Linked DNA regions of Homo sapiens: regions 2 and 3 are each reported to be linked to region 1. The links are microRNA targets in miRTarBase. Many come from high-throughput screens and were not tested one by one. Region 1 holds a microRNA gene; each other region holds the end of a gene's coding sequence.
The links. The annotated mature microRNA hsa-miR-4720-3p reads UGCUUAAGUUGUACCAAGUAU and lies in region 1 at 1,848-1,868, shown strand. An mRNA with a match to its seed (bases 2 to 7 or 8) in the 3' UTR can be bound and repressed. Matches are read on the target gene's strand: a 7mer-m8 pairs with bases 2 to 8, a 7mer-A1 pairs with bases 2 to 7 and ends in A, and an 8mer does both.

Region 1 (7,198 bases):
TTAGTCAGAAATGACTGTTGCCCTCTCTTTTTTTTTTTTTTTTTTTTTTTTTTTTGAGACGGAGTCTCGCTCTGTCGCCTAGGCTGGAGTGCAGTGGTGCGATCTCGGCTCACTGCAATCTCCGCCTCCTGGGTTCAAGCAATCATCCTGCCTCAGCCTCCCCAGTACCTGGGATTACAGGTGCTTATTACCACACTCGGCGAATTTTTTGTGTTTTTAGTAGAGACGGGGTTTCACCATGTTAGCCAGCATGGTCTCGATCTCCTAAACTTCGTGATCCGCCCGCCTCAGCCTCCCAAAGTGCTGGATTACAGGTGTGAGCCACCTCGCCTGCCCTCTTTTTTTTTTTTTATTTTGAGATTAAAACTAATTCTTTTAAAGTCACTACTCAGCTGAAATTTGGCCTGATTATAAATGTTGATAATAATTTCTTCCTGGCTCAACAAAGTTGTTGAGCTTCCTTCTGTGCACACATTGAAAGAAAACCAGAAATTGTACAGTCGTGATATGAATTAGAGAAGGAACAGGTGGAAAAGGATGGCAACACACAGAGTCCGGGGGACACACGGCCTTAAGATGAAGTGAACGAGTAGACACTGAATAGGATCCACGTAAATGAACGGCCATTTCAAATCATTCACATCCCAAACGGAGGTTCATCTGTCTTCTGGTTGGTGAATTATATTTATTAGGATCTTATTTTTAGCATTTCATTACAAGTAATAGGTTTGGGTACCTTATTTTTATTGTTTTTACTCATCAGTTATGAATAAGGCATACCTTAGAAACTTGGGTTAAATTTTTTCAAGTTATACCAGTCAACTTGGTTTAAATACAACTGTACTAACTTGCTTTATCATGTTTCCTGTTTAATTGGATGAGAATTACATGCACTTATTCAGTTGTTCTTTGTGTTTATAGGAAAAACTCTGTTCTCAGCTACCTCATTATGTAGTATTGTGCTTGATCCCCTGCCAATTGAGAAGAATTCAACACATTCTGTTCTTTAACAAAAGCTTGGAAGCAGGCAGTCAGAGGCCTTGAGGAATACAATTCTCTAAGGCCTGTTTTCCATTTTACTACTTAAAAAAAAAAAAAAAAGAAAAGAAAAAAAAGCACTTACAACCAGGAGGAATAATAATTCTCCTAGAGTTGCTGCAAACTGATTACTTGAAACTCAACTTGAACTTTAAAGAGTCTTTAAAAGGCTGTTTTCATAATGCAGAAAAGTAGTCTATTTAAACGCCACTGCTGTGTAAAACAGGGGGCTCGATTTCCATTCTTGTTAGCATCAGACAAGAAAATGTGTCTATCTGTCATCTGACCCAGTATTTGGGATTTGGGTGCTTGAGGATACTATTTTTTTCATTTCTTATAAGGTGCTATTGTTTCCCAGAAATCTTTAATTTTGATGAAAATCTACTCATTGCTAAGATCCTCCTCACTTAAAGTGTTTCCTCAGTGCAGAGTTGAGGTTGGCAGAACTATATAGAGTTGGATGATACTGAAAATCATGAATGATGTGATTTGTTCCATGTATCTGTGGAACATCCCTCACCTTCCTCCGGTATGCGCCTTCTGCACTCCACACGTGGTCGCCTCCATCCTCCCTAGTGTCTGTCAGCTTGCCTGGTCACCAAGTCAGGAGGAAGAAGATGAGGAGGCTCACCAGTTGTAGGCAAGACTCTTCCTCTCGGGAGATCTTGTAATAATGGCCCAGTTTCAGGGCACAGTTGTACACATTCTACTTAAATGGAGGAGTTCAGTGATGCCGTGGCCAAAAGAGTTATGCCCATTTCTAAAAGCCTGGCATATTTGGTATAACTTAAGCACCAGGTAAAATCTGGTGCTTAAGTTGTACCAAGTATAGCCAAGTTTAACTGTCGTTGTGTATTAATAAGATTTAATTTTTATGCTTGTGCTTTTCAGAGTAAAGGGCTTGCTTTCAATAGTAGAATGACAAAGCTTCTCCTCCAATGACAATCTGTTAGCACCCTGTTGACTTAGCTCAGGACATGAGACTGACTTAGCTCAGGACATGAGACATTTCCTGGAAGTGATTTCCATGAGAACAAAGGCTTATTCCTTTAACTTAAACCCCAAACTTTGTTATTTTAATTATTTTCAGGCAATCATCTTTATATACTTTCCTTACAAACCCAGTGGTTGAGAGCATAGGCCTTGGTGGCAGGTGCATCTGGGCTTGGGGGCTTCTGCCACACTTACTACTCTGTGACTTGGGAAGCTCTTAAGGCTCCCAAGGCTCCGTTTCTTATGTGGAAGAAGAATAGCAGGAGGACTCACCTCTGCGGGTTGTTGTGAGGATTAACTGGGTGATGACTGTAAGCAGCTGGGAGAGTGCCTTGTGTGCAGTGACCACTGTTGCTGCCACCATGATTATGTCACCTCTCAACATGGGGTGGTGGGAGGCCCTGTGGATGAGGCCAAGGCTGCCTGCACTGAGTGTCCCAGGCCTTATAGCTTTCCACATTCTCACGTCTGCTGCCACATGATATACAAGTAAATGTATTAGAAGTTGGTGTTCATAAAATACTTTTTTTTTTTTTTTTTTTTGAGATGGAGTCTCGCTCCGTCACCCAGGCTGGAGTGCAGTGGCGCCATCTCCCAGGCTCAAGGGATCCTCCTGCCTCGGCCTGCCAAGTAGCTGGGACTACAAGTGCACACCAGTATGCCCAGCTAATTTTTTGTATTTTTAGAACAGGTGTGGTTTCACCATATTGCCCAGGCTGGTCTCGAGCTCCTGAGCTCAGGCAATCCGCCTGCCTCAACCTCCCAAAGTGCTGGGATTACAGGTGTGAGCATCCAGCCAGAAAATGATTTGCTTTCTAGACCCATATCACCTCTCTCCATCTACATCTCTAGTATTTAAATTCAACACAATTCTAGATAGCTGAAACAGCCCAAAATATGTGTTTAGAATACTTAGAGTTTGTTATAAATAACCCTCTGTTTAGAATTTGCCCAGTGAAATTCTCTAATAATACTTAAAACTCTTTACTAAAGTTGAATTTTCCTTTTTTTTCATTGAAATAGCAAAGGTAGTAATCTGTATTGGTCAAAGAAACGAGATAATTCCTAGATCTCTGTTTTAGACCAGTAGACCTAACTGTGCTTTCTTAACTTGGATGTTACATGAAACTTAAAAACAAACAAATATGTGTTACAAGTACTTGTGTGTACGTGCATGTGTGTTTGTGCATGTGTCTGTGTGTGTGGAACTTTTGTACCTTTGCATAAAGAAGGTTATTTAACAAAGTGGTACAAACAGTGAACTACTTAATCCTTCTATGGTATCATACACTTCTTTTCCTGGTTAGGTTATGAGACTGGCAGAGGTAGGAGTATATAATGTGCTCAGCTTGTCTTGATTTCAATAAGACATTTGATAAAGTCATTCTTGATCTCTGAATGTGAAAAGGAAGTAGAACAGCCGGGCGCGGTGGCTCACGCCTGTAATCCCAGGACTTTGGGAGGCCAAGGCGGGCAGATCACCTGAGGTCGGCAGTTTGAGACCAGCCTGACCAACGTGGAGAAACCCCGTCTCTATTAAAAATACAAAATTAGCCGGGCATGGTGGCACATGTCTGTAATCCCAGCTACTCGGGAGGCTGAGGCAGGAGAATCTCTTGAACCCAGGAGGCGGAGGTTGCGGTGAGCCGAGATGGTGCCGTTGCACTCCAGCCGGGCAACAAGGGCTAAACTCCATCTCAAAAGAAAAGAAAGAAAGGGAAGTAGAAGTAGGATTTAACAAAGGACCGAGAAGTCGGCTGAATAGCCAGGTTCAGACAGTGTTGGCAAGAACGGATCTTTGGCAAGATCACTTAAGGTGAGCTACTCTAGCAGCATCCTGTTTGACATTTGTATCCATAACTTGAATAAAAATATAGAAGGCAAAGAAGAGTGCTGGGCAAGATGTGTTGGGTGTTAGATCTGCAATACTCTTCATAGTGTAATGGCTAAATGTAAAGTCTTACGTCTCGGTTCAAGAAAGCACGTTGCTATATGAAATTTCAGAAAAAAGTTTTGTTGCGGGGGGTGGGATATTGATCATTTGAACATATGCCAGTTGTTTCTCCTGCCCTAGGGGAGGTTGGCACGGCAACCTTCCCACTCCGTAGGTGGGTAGCCTTGCTGATGGGGCACGTCGTCACCAAGGGACCTGATTGTTGTCATGGTTTTGTCTTGTCCTCCTCCCTGGTGAAAGTCTACTGCAGTTTTATTCTCAGCTCTGGAAGGAGAGGGAACGAGCCTCTGCCTGTGTGTCCTGACCCCTCTTGCCTTGTTTTTGATCTGCTCAGGCCGGGTGCAGTGGCTCACGCCTGTAATCCCAGCACTTTGGGAGGCAAAGGCAGGTGGATCACTTGAGGTCAGGAGTTCAAGACTAGCCTGGCCAACATGGTGAAACCCCGTCTCTACTAAAAATACAAAAATTAGCCGAGTGTGTTGGTGGGCCCCTGTAATCCCAGCTACTCGGGAGGTTGAGGGAGGAGAATCACTTGACCCCAGGAGGCAGAGGTTGAAGTGAGCCAGGATTGTGCCACTGTACTCCAGCCTGGGCGACAGAGGGGGACTCTGTCTCACAAAAAAATAAAAAATTAAAAAAAAAGGTCTGCTCAGAAATAGGGGAAACACGGGATCAAGATCATTAGAGATTTATAGGCTGGGATGCACACCATGTCTTCAGAGCTAGCCGGCTGTGTCTTCTCCCCGTTTCTTTCACTGGTGAATAACCTTTCGTTTGAACCAGCCTTGATTGTTCTCTCCATGTTCCACTGTGGCTCCCCATGGACACTGCTAGGTGGAATCTCTGAGAAAACAGGCACTTCGCAGTCGGCGCATCTTTCTCTGCCAGCTTAGGGATTGCCGTCAAGGTGGAGGAAGGGTATTTTGGCCATGTTCGGAGTCGTTGTTTTTACTCACTCTTCTTGGGATAGCTTTCCCACCCTGCCCTCTGCTCCTCTGTCCCAACCCTCTTCCAGCCTGGTTTTTTTACTGCTTGAATTATGTATCCAAAATAAAAAGGAAAAGAAAGGTGCAGTTGGGGCGGGTTGTTGGGGGCGAGGAGAATAGCCCTTCTGGTTCTTCAGACCACATAATGGCCAGAGCATGAGCCTCACAGATCCCTGAGCAGACCTGCATACTAGCACTTTCCACAACCAGCTGGCCCTGGCTGTGAGAGTCAGATCTGTCCCCAAGGCTCCAGGTCAGAACTTGGACCCAGGTGCCTTCTGAGGCACCGCCAAGGACACATCCCAGCGCCTTAGGCACCTGTAGGCTAGAATGACACCTTCCAGGCCAGCCCCAGAGGCCCTCAGGGCTCCCCCTCCAAGCCGGGAGGGCAGGCAGGCACAGGCCCCGCTCACTACCTCAGCACCCAGTGCAGCCCCAGGCTCCCGGACGTGCTCGGCCCGGTGGCCTCTTGTGTGACAGGCCCTCTGCCATGTCTGTCCGCAGAGCCGGGTGGGGACCCTCCGTGTGGGTCCTCCTCTGTCCCTTTGCAGCTCGCATTCGCCAGAGCGGAGCGCAGCCCTTGTTTCCTTCTTTCCTCTTCAGCTCTGACTTAAAAACACACTATGTTCCAAATCGTTGTGGGATCGGAAACTAGAACTGCTTGTTTCCAGGAGAGACCACCTTTTCATATTTTTTTTAAAAGGAATTTGTGCTTCAAAAGAAACTCCAAAAAATAAATTTATTGTTAGTCTAGCATATGCTCATTGAAATTGACTTATGTTTTATTTTAAAAAATCATGTAGGATCTGGTACATGGGGCGGGCAAAAGGGTATCATCAGCTTAAGAAGTAAAGAAGTGAGCCTTCCATTTGTGTGGGTGATAACATCTTTTTCCTAGATCGTACCTCAAAATTCAGGCTCTCCATGAAAACAAAGATAATCTGAATAAAAATTGTGTGTTGGGAAATGTATCAAGTGACCTTCAGTTAAGAAAAGCACAGGCTGTTTATTAGCACAACTTGCTTCATTAAATAATTCGTGGCTTTTTCTGCCACTGGGGTTCTTTTCGTTTTGAATTCAGCTTGTGTTTGGTTCCTCGGTCTTGTACCCCTTCAGTTCGCCGGCGACGTAATGGTGATACCCTTTGTTTTTTGTATCATACCTTTTGTGAATTGTGACAACCATCCCGTAATCATTGTGGCCTCAGCAGAAGTTTTGAACAATCTTTGCAGCCACTGTTGGGGTGTGTACCAGCAGCCTGGAAGTGACCAGCAGAGCTGACAAAAGCACCCCCTGCTCTGCCCACCTCCGCAGAGTCCTGTCCTCATCAGAAACGGTATCGCGGATGCTCCTCAGGTAGGCGTAGGCAGACTTCATTGTGTGTTAGCAGTGACAGTGATGTCTGTACCTATCTGTGAGTGAGACCCATTCATGACACACTAGAAATGTGTACATTCTTTTGTTTTCCATCACGGGTATAGGTCTTCTGCCATGAAAGAGAACTATCAAGGAAATTCCTGAAAACAAGATTTGTAAATTCGATTTGACCCTCCCAAATTCAGGGCTGCTCTTTGCAGTGGTCCCTGGCCCAGCAGGTGGCCGGCGTGGCTCCTGTTGGCTCATGCCAGTGTTGTGCTGGACCCTCGAGTATGTGACTGTCACCCTTGTCCAAGACTGGTTTTTAACAGTCTTGATTTGTCATTTTGATGCTTTGAATACTATAAGGAAAATGCCACGAATACCATATAAATACCACACCAATCTGTTGAACATATCTGTGTTTTCTGACATGGGACCTGCAGAATAGTATTTCTTTTAAATCCTGCAACTTTATTATCTAGTAGAATTCCAAGTAGGTCTGCTTAGACACATATTCAGTGAAGATTGTATTGTGTGTGATATTATCCTATCTTTAATAAAGTCCTACTACTGAAAAACAGGGATTTGCAATGAAAATCATAGCTAAATAGGCAGGTTTAGAAAGTTCAAAATATTGGAAGTGCTAGAAGGCTGCAACTTGTAAAATTGTACTCCCCAAGTTCAGTAGGATAGTAGAGAAGTCGTGCTAAGTTGATTTCATTGAAATGTCACGTCTCACATCCTGTGGTCCAAAGGTACTAGTTTGTTTTGTGGAATAATTTTCTGTTCACTTGCTGATAAGAAATTTAGCAGTCAGAAGTAATTTTTAATTAATAACCTTTCTTTTTAAAAGTTGCTTTATGGTTTA
Region 2 (7,198 bases), not on the chromosome of region 1:
CAGCCACACCAACCGCGACCACATTTCTTCCTTCCTTGGCCCCCGCAGTGCGCCCGCGCGTAACGCCGAGCGACGCGCCTGAGAGTGATGACATCAGAGTGCGCCGTCGTCGCCGCCGCCACCACTGTCGCCATGAACAGTGTGGGGGAGGCATGCACGGACATGAAGCGCGAGTACGACCAGTGCTTCAATCGCTGGTTCGCCGAGAAATTTCTCAAGGGGGACAGCTCCGGGGACCCGTGCACCGACCTCTTCAAGCGCTACCAGCAGTGTGTTCAGGTGAGCCCTCCCGCCTCTGTTCCCAGGCCCTGCATTCTCGGCGCTGTGTCCCACCACACTCATCGTATTTTACGGGGATTGGGACTGGACTGGAAGGGTGGAGAAAAGTCGCAGTGAGGCCAGTGGCAGGAGCTCGCTCCCCTACCATCACCACCGAGGCCACTTGGGTGTCTCTCCGAATGACAAATATTGGGGCAGTGCTTTTCAAGAAGCACAGTCACATCCTTTGGTTCATTTGGTGTTCACCCTAAACTCGCAAGGTGGGCATAGTTACTCATATTTTATACATAAAAAACTAACACCCAGAAATAGGAAGTGATTAATCCGAGTTCACTAGCATCAGGTTTCCTTGGTTCTTTCGCAGGTGGTGCACTTTTCCACTATTACTGCTGGGGTCTGGGCGGGATTATACTTCAGAATTCAGACTGGAGGGTCACATTTTTTTGTTGTTATAAACCCTTCGTTAGCCTGTTTCTCTCTCTTGACCAGTCCCCGCAACTGCAGCCAGGAAATGTTTATTCTGGCCCAATGGATGTGGAACTGCTTTGAATTGTTAAGAACAGCACCGGGCAAAGCACTTCCAATAAGTTAACCCAACACATCCTCACAGCAATTCCCCGAGGTAGTTGCTGTCTTCATCCCATTTACAGTTAGTCACATAGCCAGTAAGTCCTGGAACCCAGATTTGAACCTAAGTCTTTCACTAACACAAAGTGATGATTATTTTTCAAATTTCACTTAATTTTAACGGTTCCCTCACAACTCCTTTTCCAGTCTCCCTCAGGTCTTACACTTGATTTATTCATTATGGTACTTCTGGTTTTTATTTATTTTTGAGGCAGAGTCTCACTCTGTCTCCCAGCCTGGAGTGCAATGGCACAATCTCAGCTCACTGCAACCTCCGCCTCCCAGGTTCAAGCTATTCTCATGCCTCAGCCACCCGAGTAGCTGGGCTTACAGGCATGCGCCACCATGCCCAGCTAATTTTTGTATTTTTAGTATAAACAGGGTCTCGCCATGTTGGCCAGGTTGGTCTCTAACTTCTGGCCTCAAGTGATCCACCTGCCTTGGTCTCCCAAAATGCTGCGATTATAGGCGTGAGCCACCACACCTGACCGGTACTTGTTTTTTAAAAAGTATGTGGTTTGAATCATGGTTATAAGTCTTTATAATCAGCTTGATTTTACTTTTGTACTGTCATATTTTATTTACAAAGCTTGCAACTTAAGCTTCATGTAGGTCTTTATAATGTGTTTTCTCCTCCTACCAGAAAGCAATAAAGGAGAAAGAGATTCCTATTGAAGGACTGGAGTTCATGGGCCATGGCAAAGAAAAGCCTGAAAATTCTTCTTGACCTTGACAGTCACCTTGAAGGATTTCGCAAGTCCAGAAATTGAGGACTCTGGATTTTTGTCAACTAACTCTGTGAACATAGCCATCAGATTTGATGAGGAACTTAGGAGAGAGGAGTTTTATTTCCTCCTTCGATGTTTTCCTCTCAGTTGTAAAAGATGAACTCTTTGAGATGATTTCTCACCTGCTGTGGTATCTTGCAGGAACTGTGTGCTAAAATTGAACAATTTTTTTGAGATTATGGTTGCAATACTTGGCGTGGAATCAGCTTTACATAAATATACCTTGTATGCAAACGATGATAAACTAGTCAGGATGAGCAGAGCTGCCTGACCTCTTGATTTCTGCTGCAAAAGACATATACACTGTACTGGGGTCACTATTTATGAAAGCAATTGGTTAGGACCTCTTTTTTTCCTCTCAGGGAACTAATGCTCTGAAAAGGGATCTGGGCACAACAGTTTCAGTGAGTGCTTTTGAGCACACTTTTATTTTTATATAGTAACTAATGGTTAAGATTGATGGTGGCCTGGATTAGCAAAGAGGAAGACAGCTTTTAACACAGTTCCCTGCCTTCACAAGAGGTGTCAGATTAAGATGTGAAAGCTGCAAGAATGTTGCAGTGAACACCATTTCAGAGCTCTCAGTGTGCAGTTCAGGAATTAAGATACTTGGAATAGCTGTGGAGGAAGAACCTAAATTGCAAAGATCTGCTATTGCCAGCTCTCAACCCAAGTCAGTGAATTGTCAACCTGCATATCCTAAAAATGTCAAAATGCTGCATCTGGTTAAATGTCGGGGTAGGGGGGAAGCTGAAGGTGCTCGCTTCATTTGCCTTGTTTACTCATCCTGCCCTGTAATGTCTGTAATCCTGAAGATGGAATAAATTGTAACATTTAGTTTCTATCATTATTTGCCTCTGGAACTCAGTGCATTTTATGGAACTATTACCCTGTTACCCTACAAACCTCATATATACAGTGGGGAGAGTTTTGTGTTTTGTAACTTAAAGGTGAAGAAAAAGTGACTTGTCTTAAGCTAGGTGGTACAGTATGGCAATCAGAAACCTCACATTTTTTTTTTTTGAGACAGTCTGGTTCTGTCACCCAGGCTGGAGTGCAGTGGCGCAATCTTGTCTTACTGCAAACTCCACCTCCTGGGTTCCAATGATTCTCCTGCCTCAGTCTCCCAAGTAGCTGGGATTACAGGCATGCATCACCATGCCCAGCTAGTTTTTGTATTTTTAGTAGAGATGGGGTTTCACCATGTTGGCTGGTCTTGAACTCTTGACCTCCCGAAGTGCTGGGATTACAGGCATGAGCCACCGCACCCAGCCAAAACCTCACTGATTTCTAAAATTTCCACAATAGGCTATACAAATACACTACGGTACCAAAAAAGGATCAGGAGAGCACTTACTTACCTCAGAATGTCACGTAATCCCCACAATTAATTGAGTAATTTGGTTTTATTAGATACCCAAAGTAGTATGAAACTTGAATTACAGGCCGGGTATGGTGGCTCATGCCTGTAGTCTTAACACTTTGGGAAGCTGGGATGGGCGGATCACTTGAGCTCAGGAATTTGAGACCAGCCTGGGCAACATAGCGAAACCCTGTCTCTACAAAAAAATTAGCTGGGTATGGTGGTGTGTGCCTGTAGTCCCAGCTACTCTAAAGGCTGAGGTGGGAGAATTACCTGAGCCTGAGAGGTGGAGACTGCAGTGAGCTGTGATTGTACCACTGCACTCCAGGCTGGGTGACACAGCAAGACCCTGTCTGAAAAATAAACCAAGAAACTTGATTTATAGAAGGCCCTAATTCTATTGTCTTTTCTCCACTTTACCAATTGCTACATCATATTTAATGTGACTTGTCCTTAATGTCATTTCAAAACATTCTTCATTTATATTTTATGACTGGCTAGGGTCCATTATCCAAGGATTATAAAAGATGTTTGGAACCCAGCCAAGGGAGGCCAGGCAGCAAGCTGAAGTATAATGCATCTGTCCTAAACTCAGACTGGCCACAACCAAAACAGCTCTATAGGGACTCAGAAGTGCAGGCTGTAATATTACAAAATGGCAAAGACAATGAGATTCTCTATTCCGTTAATTATTACAAAATGGCAAAGACAATGAGATTCTCTATTCCGTACTGTATATGCCTTACTTTTGCGTTACCAGTTTAATGTAATATAATATGAAATACCTTGTTGCCTCTTGAACCTTACCACGAAAGTGTTCCTTTGAGCCTTAAGAATAAACCAGCTGGCTGGGCGCGGTGGCTCACGCCAGTAATCCCAGCACTTTGGGAGACTGAGGTGGGCAGATCACCTGAGGTTGGGAGTTTGAGACTAGCCTGACCAACATGGAGAAACCCCATCTCTACTTAAAATACAAAAAATTAGCCAGGTGTGGTGGCACATGCCTGTAATCACAGCTACTCAGGAGGGTGAGGCAGGAGAATTGCTTGAACCTGGGAGGTGGAGGTTGTGGTGAGCCAAGATCATGCCATTGCACTCCAGCCTGGGCAACAAAAGCGAAACTCTGTCTCAAAAAATAAAATAAAATAAAATAAACCAGCTCTGGCCAGGCACAGTGGCTCAGACCTGTAATCCTAGCACTTTGGGAGGCTGAGGTGGGCAGATCACCTGAGGTTAGGAGTTCAAGACCAGCCTGGCCAACATGTGAAACCTTGTCTCTACTAAAAATACAAAAAAGTAGCCGGGCGTAGTGGCGGGCGCCTGTAGTCCCAGCTACTTGGGAGGCTGAGGCAGGAGAATGGCGTGAACCCGGGAGGTGGAGCTTGCAGTGAGCCGAGGTCCCGCCACTGCACTCCAGCCTGGGCGACAGAGCGAGACTCCATCTCAAAAAAAAAAAAAAAAAAAAAAAAATAATAATAATAATAATAATAATAATTGCCCTCTCAGAGTGGTTTTGTAACTACTACTACTACCATTTACTATCCATTAAAGCAGGATAGTTTTAATTCCACAGAAAAGCCAATAAGCAGAAATGTGTCACGCTCCCTTTGTTTCTCTTAAGATTTCTGACCCTACCAGCCCTGAAGGAGATTACCTCAAAGTAAGAACTTGACACATTCGAGGCCAGGCACGGTGGCTCACGCCTGTAATCCCAGCACTTTGGGAGGCTGAGGCGGGTGGATCACGAGGTCAGGAGATCGAGACCATCCTGGCTAACATGGTGAAACCCTGTGTCTACTGAAAATACAAAAAATTAGCTGGGTGTGGTGGCGGGTGCCTATAGTCCCAGCTACTCGGGAGGCTGAGGCAGGAGAATGGCTTGAACCTGGGAGGCAGAGCTTGCAGTGAGTGGAGATCGTGCCACTGCACTCTAGCCTGGGCAACAGAGAGAGACTCCGTCTCAAAAAAAAAGAAAAAAAAGAACTTGACATGTTCAAGAAAATTATGACTACAGGGAAGATTCTGCAGTAAATGCTAGTGGAATGGGACAGGAAAAAGATGAGACCCAGATCAAGCACTTCCTCTTGAGAAATACAGATACCTCTTTCAGGTGTAAATTGCAGGCATTCTGCTAGCCATTCAATGTCTTTGATATCTCAGGCCCGTCAAGGACCAATCTTTTGTTTTTTGAGACAGAGTCTCACTCTGTTGCCCAGGCTGGAGTGCAGTGGCACGATCTTGGCTCACTGCAACCTCCACCTCCCGGGTTCAAGCCTCTACACCCAGCTATAGGAGTGCGCCACCACACCCAACTAATTTTTGTATTTTTAGTAGAGACAGGATTTCATCATGTTGGCCCGGCTGATCTCCAACTCCTGACCTCAGGTGATCTGCCAGCCTCAGCCTCCCAAAGTGCTGGGATTACAGGCATGAGCCACCGCACCTGACCAAGGACTAATCTTGATGCTTAATTAGCACCACTCCACTTGGTCCCTTTATCCACATCAGGCACAATAAACCAAGAGGGGCTGTTATAAACACTTATTCAATGGGCTGAATTGGACCTGTAACACTAAACAGCAGCCTAGACCTTCACTGTGGAAACAGAAATAACTAATGCCAATTTCTTTTCAACTTGGACACTGACTTGAAGCTCAAATGCTAATTTCTGCGAAAAAACACAACCAAAGAAAGTAACTCTCAGCTCATGACCAATCTAAATTTAAGTTATTTATTTAAGCCATCTCCTGCCACAAGCAAAGGGATGGGAGACCAGTATACCAGTCATCATTTGATACAAGTAAAGAAGGTGAGCTTAAGGTCCCATATACTTTTTCTGGTCCATGTGCAGAGTAACGGTCCAAACCAGTGCTGTGGTCCCTGGTGCCCGGGTAGTGGTCCAGATTCTCTTTATTCATCTTCGTAGCCAGTTGGAAGTGGATTCACATGAGGGTTATGGAATAGAGTATGGTTACCATCTCCCCAGGGAAACGGCTGTGGAGTGAAGATGTCAGTTAGATAATTCCAGAAAATAATTTAGAAAGAACACCGTCATGAACTGCTTATAACGGGGTGACAGATCATATATAAAAACAAAATGGAAATTAGTCCTTTATCTACTGGTGTAGTTCAACCTTCCCATTATTTAAGGAGCTCTTATAACTACCAGGGGAGCCCTTAAAGTTATCCTGGCTACAGGACAGTTTTAATTCCAGAAACAAATATGGATGGCAGAAAATGCAAGCTCAAGTTAGTTACTCATCATCCTCTCCCTAGTAACTAGTATATCCAGTGCTGTGTTTATGAAAGTGTAATCCTCAAATCACCTATATCAAAATGGTGGCAGTATTAGGGGAGGGAGATGCTTAATTAAATGCAGATTTCTGGCACCATCCCAGACTTCAAACAATATCTGGGCTGGGAAACTGCAGCCCACCCTGAATTATCTTGCCTATTACCTTTGAAAAGCATTACTTTAGGGCAACGGTCTCCAACCCAGGGTGATTTTGCCCCTTCAGGGCACACTGGGTAGTATCGGGAGACACTGTGATGGGGGCGGGGGAGGGGGAAGCGGGAGTGGGGTTGCGCAGGTACTACTGCCACCTAGTGGGTACAGGCCAAGGATATGGCTAAACATTTCACAATGCACAAGATAGCCCCCCAACAAGAATTACCCAGCCCCAAATGTCAACAGTGCTGAGGCTGAGAAACCTTTACTGTTTGGCTTCTAATTGCATTGTACAAGGATGGGAGTGCCGCTCAAAGACTCAACAAATTCAAGAGTCTAGGTTAAGTTTCTACAAGGCCAGTCCTATATGGGCTAGGTGATGTAATAATAATAATAATAATAATAACTTTTTTCATCACTTCTCGGCCTTTTGGCTAAGATCAAGTATATTATTACTATTTTTTTTTGAGACGGAGTTTCACTCCTGTTGCCCAGGCTGCAGTGCAATGGCTGGATCTTGGCTCACTGCAACCTCCTCCTCCTGGGTTCAACCTCCTAGATTCTCCCACCGCAGCCTCCCGAGTAGCTGGGATTACAGGCGCCCGCCACCACGCCCGGCTACTTTTTGTACTTTTAGTAGAGATAGTGTTTCGCCATGTTGACGAGGCTGGTCTTGAACTCCTGACCTCCGGC
Region 3 (7,198 bases), not on the chromosome of region 1:
TCTCCTGTGCTTCCAGGGATCAGAATTTCCCTCCCTATTAGGGAAATGCGTTTAAAAAAAAAAAAAAAACACGCCAGTTTGGTTGGGATGTTTTTAGTATGCTAAAACGTTTATGTTTACCCAGCTCATGAGTCAGAAGTTATTTTGCTGCTTATAAATTCATTTTGCCATAGTATGATAAATAGCTTTTAATGTTGTAAGCAAATAGGGCATTGGATAGCAGCACTAAGTCATTGAAAACAAAAACTTCTTTATTGGTGTTTGGTTTTTATATAGTTTAGGGAAAGGCTCTTTAAACCAAGTTTCAGGTGAAAAAATGAAAAAACTTTTTAAGGATTTTAGATAACATGCCAAGCACAGTGACTCATGCCTGTAATCCCAGTAGTGAATCTGAGAAGCGCAGGCTTCCCAGATCGCTTGAGCTCAGGAGTTGAAGACCAGCCTGGGCAACATAATGAGATCCCGTCTGTACAAATAATTTAAAAATTAGCCAGCCATGGTGGTGTGCGCCTATAGTTCTAGCTATTTGGGAGGCTCAGGCTGGACGCTGAGCCTGGAGGACCACTTGAACCCAGGAGTTGGGGCTGAGTGAGCCATGATCGTGCCACTGTACTTCAGCCTGAGTGACAGAGTGAGATCCTGATGCTTAAGTTTAAAAAAAAAAAAAAAGATTTTAGATAACAACTATGGAAATGAAATCATTTTCGTTTGGTTTATATCTTCTCCACATCTTTTCTAACTTTGCGTTCTATTCTTAACCCTAAGGTAAAAATGCATTTGCAAAGGGAGAAAATGAAGGCCAAACAGAAGCAGGCTCCAGCTTCTGCAAAAACTTGGATTCACAAATGTCCCTGAACAGAAAATGAAGCTCACTTCAGAACACACACTCTCTGCCTTGAAAACTAAAGAGACTATTACTTCCTTTTCACATGACCACAAGTCCTCTGATGGAAATGTACAGCAGAAACTCTTGAGAGAGAGGCTAAAAGCAACTCTGTTCTCCCCCTTCCCCTAGACTTTTCTTACGAAAAGTCAATAATTAAGCAAATTGCTTAACACTTGGTTCCAGTTCCTGCCTATCTGGAGTTTAAATGCGTAATACACCATTAATTTCCACGCTGCAGTTTTTATTTTAAAGAAAGTAACAAGATGTCTTTACACTGACACTGAAAATTCATCCATTTTAGAGCCAGGAATTCCCATGTTACACAGGAAAAAATAGAAGTCTACTGAATTAATTTTTTAAAAGAAAAGAGATCAGATTAAATATTTCTTTGTTTTTCCTTTTGGAAACTTTTATGTATAATTCTTTCTGCCTGCCTACTTTTCTGCAAAAATGAGATGTACAGATTTCGGTTCCCTGCTATGAAAAGTGATGTGGTAGCAATTTTATAAATGTTGCTTTCTGATTTTTATCAGAGTGAGAAAATTAAAATTATTGATTTGCAAGTAGTAAACAGTTCATATTTTGATTTCCCCTCATTTTAGTTTAATATAATTTGCAATAAATGTACATATTGTTGTTTGTTTCATAAAGCATATCACTTTAAAATGGTTTTTACTCCTGTGATTATGTTGGAATATTTGGAATTTTAAAGGAGTAAAGACTGTCCAGCATTTGGTTTTATAATGTTTGTCACCAGATTTTTATTAATGTAAAAAAAATCAATTTTTAAAAAATAGTTGGACTTTGGCAGCTTTTAAGGAAAGTTGGAGGTGTTTTAGGATTGCTATCAATTTTCAGCATTGTGCTATTTGGAAATAAGTGTTTTGCTTTTGTCTGATGGTCTGGGCTCATTTTTATGTTTATTTTAGAAAACTGTTGCATCAATATATTATGTTTCTTGGCATTGTTCAGCATAGGTAATGTGTGCACTTTATGTGTACACATAATCATATTTAAGTTTTTTGCATAAAATAAATGCTTCTAGATGTCATGGCAGTCTTTTTAATCTTTTTATCATATGCTTTCTTGTGAATTTTTTCATGTTAAAGAGCTAAAGTCATAACATGATTACAGTCAACTCTCCATTATCTATATAAAATAGTGACTAAGCCTCAGGTTTTTAATTTTGTGATAACAAAATAACGAAGGCATGTAAGACCTGATTCTGGAGGAACATGAAATTTGTCTTTTCTCATGTCCAGAGTTCTATCCTGCCCCCACTGTCCACTGTAGGGTCATCCGCAAAGCCCTAGCAGAATGTGCTCACTCCATTTCCTTACACGTTTCTAGCATGGGTCAGAGGAAACAACATTTGTGTTATAACTTCGTCTTGATAGGCTGTAGTGTACATGGGATGTAAAACAAACAAGTGTATCAAAGGTGGATGATTCTGTTAGAGTGAAGTTTGAGAGTAAATGTCACTTACGTTTCTCATAGATAATCAAGAGTTGGCTGTGTATTGACTGAAAGATGGGTAATTATTTTAAATATGCATTTACACACATTTAGGTATCAGAAGATGCTTAGGGAACAATGGATACCAATGATAGAAAATGATACCTTTACAGGGGCAGAAAAATCCCCACTCTTCCTTATTGCCTCTTCAGAACCCTTTAGAAAGTATAAAATATTGCCTCCAACATGCTGAAAAAGAGTATCTATGCATAAGTATCAGAGAAGTCCCTCAAGCAATCAGTAGGTGTGTTCTATTTAGAGAGAGTTTAAAGTTCTCTTAGCATCAGACAACTTGATTCCTAAGGTTTCCAGTGTGTCACCAACAAAAAGTGCATTGATAGGGACCTTTGTCTCTTCCTCCCTTTGATTAATTGCCCGGCATCACAGTTTACTAGATTACCAAGTGTTACATCATATTAAATAAAATGTAGCAGAACCATCTGCATCAATATATTCCTGTTTAGATTTTTGCAGGAGAGAAGTTAAAAGGATTTGCTCCTTGTATGATGTAAGTGGCCCACCCCAATTTTGTAACATGATGCAAGTGTCTGGCACTAAGGGAAGCAAGAGTAGGGTTGTGGAAAGACCAAGCTGATGGGGAGGGACTTGTTTACGGGAATTTTTTTAGTTTTCCTTTTCAAAGGAAAACATTAAAATCCCTTAGGAATTTGGTATTCACATCTCAGAGAACTACAACACAAAAGTGCAGACTTATATTTGAGAATTAATGTTAACCCTTTGTGTCTAGTTTGAAGCTTCTTGTATTTGTCTAAAACAACAAGCCAGAATTTTGTATCTCCTTTGATAAAAAGTGTGTATAATGTAAAGTAGTTTTGCATATTCTTGTGCTGCACATGGGCTGAATTTTTAAATTTTTTTTAAAAACTTGAAGCAGAACCTTGTAATTTGTGTAAATGACAAGTGTAAAATCCTACCATAAAATGCTAAAAATATGCACTGTTTCAAATAAAACCAAGAAATGCAGCATTATATAGTAGTGTGGAGCCCTGAATATTCATGTACCCCTGGTATGTCACAAGTTGATAAAATGTCTCTGCATATTTTCTGTTGAGATGCTGGAGTCTGAATATCCTAATTAGAAATCAAAAGCCACCTTCAAACTTCCTGGCTGGGTACTCTGAGGTAGCTTACAGTGGCTAAGGAAGAACATAGTGGATGATAAATTCTGAGGCACATTCGGAATTTCCAAACGAGGTTTGTTTTAGGGGGTGGCTTTTTTTTTGAAATGAGATCTTACCCTGTTGCCCAGGCTGGAGTGCAATGACATGATCATGGCTCACTGTAGCAATCCTCCTGCCCCAGGCTCCTAGAAAAGTGCTGGGATTACAGGCCTGAGCCACCAGACCTGGCCAAGAAGTTATTTTTTTAACCTAAGAATTTAATAGCAGCCTTTGATTCATATTAGTCTATGGTTCATCCATTCATTGCAAGTTCTGCACTCACATATTTAGTTCCATAACAAATTCAAGAGAGCAAGCAGATTACATAAATGTATCTGGAGTAAGAGGTGACCAGAACGAGAGGTAAGAAAGTCTATCATGGCTGGGCGCAGTGAGTCACACCTTTAATCCCAGCACTTTGGGAGGGTGGCCGAGGCAGGTAGGTCACTTGACCTAAAGAGTTCAAGACTGGCCTGGGCAACATGGTGAACCCTGTCTCTACCGAAAATACAAAAATCAGCCGAGTGTGGTGGTGCACACCTGTAGTCCCAGTTACTCAGGAGACTGAGGTGGGAGAATCCGTTGAGCCTGGGAGTCGTCGGTTGCAGTGAGCCAAGATCACACCACTGCACTCTAGCCTGGGCAACAGAGCAAAACTGTTTCAAAAATAAATAGGCCAGGCGTGGTGGCTCATGGCTGTAATCCCAGCACTTTGGGAGGCTGAGGCAGGTGGATCACCTGAGGTCAGGAGTTCGAGACCAGCCTGACCAACATGGAGAAATCCCGTCTTGAATAAAAATACAAAAAAATTAGCCAGACTTGGTGGCGCATGCCTGTAATCCCAGCTACGTGGGAGGCTGAGGCAGGAGAATCACTTGAACCTGGGAAGCGGAGGTTGTGGTGAGCCGAGATTGCGCCATTGCACTCCAGCCTGGGCAATAAGAATGAAACTGTCTCAAAAATAATAGGCTGGGCACGGTGGCTCACACCTGTGATCCCAGCACTTTGGGAGGCTGAGGCAGGCAGATCACCTGAGGTCAGGAGTTTGAGACCAGCCTCGTCAACATAGTGAAACCCTGTCTCTACTAAAGATAAAAAAAATTAGCCAGGCATACTGGCGCACGCCTGTAGTCCCAGCTTCGCGGGAGACTGAGGCAGGAGAATCGCTTGAACCAGGGAGGCGGAGGTTGCAGTGAGCCAAGATTGTGCCACTACACTCCAGCCTGGGCAACAGAGCGAGACTCCGTCTCAAAATAAGTAAATAAAGGCCTGAAACGTACATTTTGCACCACTGCACTCCAGCCTGAGTGACAGGCTGAGACCCTGTCTCAAAAAAAAAAGGAAAAGCTATCATGCCTAGTTTTGTATTTTACCCATAATGGGTTGACCTTCCACCCCCAATACTTGCACTGACAAGACTTTTTTGTCTTTGCTACTCACATGAACTGTCCTGCTCTGACAAGCAGCTTTGTAGCCTGCTTAGGTAACGGTGACAGCATTTCCTACAAGGAGTTCGCTATAAGCCAGCAAGGTAGGGAGGATGGAAATGAGAGTGCAGAATCAAGTGCCTTTCTGCTGTAAACCATACCTTCAACTTTTCATTCCCATGAGAGTAATAACCTTCATTTATTTCACTATTGTATCATAGTTCAAAGTCTTAGCAGGGCAACATACAACCCATCTCTACCAAAAAATTAAAAAAATAAGACAGGCATGGTGGTGCGTGCCTGTTTTCCCAGCTTCTCGGGAGGCTGAGGTGGGACGATTGCTTGAGTCCAGGAGGCAGAGGCTGCAGTAAACTGAGATCACACCACTGCATTCCAGCCTGGGTGACCAAGACCTTGTGTCAAAGAAAAAAAAGCCTAACGGGAACATATACAGGTCTCATTTCTAAGGAACCTGGGCCAGGCTGCTGATCAGTACTTCAGTTTTGGGGTGTTTCTCAAATGTTTCTTTATCAATACTGATTGCTAACTTATCTCCCCTCATTCTCTGGTTACTCCTGTTGTTCTTGAGCAAGGACCGTGTCATTCTGAATAAAACCTGTTATTTTTAGTAAATAGCACTACATCCATTCTTCCTGAAGAAGCTTGAATAGTGACATGGTTTGGCTCTTTGTCCTCACCCAAATCTCATCTCAAATTGCCATCCCCCACATGTCGAGGGAGGGACCTAGTGGGAGGTGATTGAATCTGGGGCGGTTTCCCCCATGCTGTTCTCTTGATAGTGGTTCTCATGAGATCTGATGGTTTAAAAGGTGTGGCCCTTCCTTGCTCTGGCTCTCCCCTGCTGCCGTATAAGAAGTGCCTTGCTTCCCTTTCCCCTTCCACCATGATTAAGTTTCCTGAGGCTTCCCCAGCCATCCGGAACTGAGTCAATTAAACCTTTCCTTTCTAAATTACCCAGTCTCAGGCAGGCTTTTGTTTTCTTTTGTTTTGTTTTGTTTTTTTGTTTTTGAGACGGAGTTTTGCTCTTGTTGCCCAGGCTGGAGTGCAATGGTGCGATCTCAGCTCACTGCAACCTCCGCCTCCTGGGTTCAAGCGATTCTCCTGCCTCAGTCTCCTGAGTAGTAGTATTTTTAGTAGAGACGGGGTTTCACCATATTGGTCATGCTGGTCTCGAACTCCTGACCTCAGGTGATCCACCCGCCTCAGCCTCCCAAAGTGCTGGGATTACAGCCATGAGCCACTGCACCCAGCTTCAGGGAGTTCTTTATAGCAGCATGAGAATGGACTAATACAAAAAAAACCACTAGAAGTCAGTAAGACATGTAAGGAGCCACCGTAGTGCTGATTCTGGATCTGCAAAAGCCAACTAGAAAATAGGGAGTCGCCATTTTTCATCATTTCAGGCATTTGTAATCTGTAGAGACTAGGCACGATGCCAGGAGCCGACATTAAAAACACCAGGATTGGTGCCTTACAAGGACTAGCAACATAACACAGGCAGCTGCGACTGTTCCAGGTGATACATTTTGTGTGGACTTCAGAACCCTGATGGATGCCGTAGAAGCAGAAAATCCTCACCTTTTCTACTGAAGTGCAATTCTGAGAACTGTTATGAGCATGTAGGTGTCTAAAGAAGTGACTGGGCCAGGCGCAGTGGCTCACGCCTGTAATCCCAGCACTTTAGGAGGTCGAGGTGGGCGGATCACCTAAGGTCAGGAGTTCAACACCAGCCTGACCAACATGGAGAAACCATCTCTACCAAAAATACAAAATTAGCCAGATGTGCTGGCACATGCCTGTAATCCCAGCTACTTGGGAGGCTGAGAGGAGAATCGCTTGAACCCGGGAGGCAGAGGTTGTGGTGAGTCAAGATCGCGCTCACCGCACTCCAGCCTGGGCAACAAGAGTAAAACTCCGTTTCAAAAAAAAAAAAAAAAAGAAGAAGTGACTGGCCTGAGCAAACTGCCCTACCTCAGGGCACAAGGAGCTGGGCCTGAAGCTGGAGGTGGCTCTCCAGGCTGAGGGCTGGGGAAAGACAAGAAGGCCACCACTTCAGCGAATCCCAACACTCCTTAAACCTCCCTGGGCCTTAAACTTCCCTGCTCTGGGGAAGAGCTGGTCCCAGCCCTGAAACCTCTCTATCCACTGTAGTCCTGAGGGACAGGGGA

Region 2: the mRNA of COX6A1 is a reported target of hsa-miR-4720-3p. Seed matches in the 3' UTR shown: 7mer-m8 at 5,871-5,877.
Region 3: miRTarBase lists PDS5A as a target of hsa-miR-4720-3p. Seed matches in the 3' UTR shown: 7mer-A1 at 1,040-1,046.

The regions. Positions count from the first base shown.
Region 1 is chr16:81,383,216-81,390,413 of GRCh38, forward strand. MIR4720 (microRNA 4720) reads left to right here and starts at 1,803; the gene lies at 1,803-1,878. GAN (gigaxonin) reads left to right here. Exons shown (of 11, transcript NM_022041.4): 11 at 1-7,198. RefSeq lists a silencer at 3,659-3,853.
Region 2 is chr12:120,439,307-120,446,504 of GRCh38, reverse strand. COX6A1 (cytochrome c oxidase subunit 6A1) reads right to left here. Exons shown (of 3, transcript NM_004373.4): 3 at 5,775-6,051. The coding sequence ends at 5,968. TRIAP1 (TP53 regulated inhibitor of apoptosis 1) reads left to right here and starts at 121. Exons shown (of 2, transcript NM_016399.3): 1 at 121-279; 2 at 1,550-2,541. The coding sequence starts at 133. The coding sequence ends at 1,633. GATC (glutamyl-tRNA amidotransferase subunit C) reads right to left here and starts at 61. Exons shown (of 4, transcript NM_176818.3): 1 at 1-61. The coding sequence starts at 24. It also overlaps the pseudogene LOC124903126. RefSeq lists enhancers at 1-91, 1-219, 1-366, 1-780, 92-939.
Region 3 is chr4:39,819,056-39,826,253 of GRCh38, reverse strand. It overlaps PDS5A (PDS5 cohesin associated factor A), which reads left to right. Exons shown (of 33, transcript NM_001100399.2): 33 at 766-3,391. The coding sequence ends at 769. Among named protein-coding and RNA genes, the nearest start is that of UBE2K, 120 kb to the right of the region's middle. RefSeq lists an enhancer at 5,518-6,055.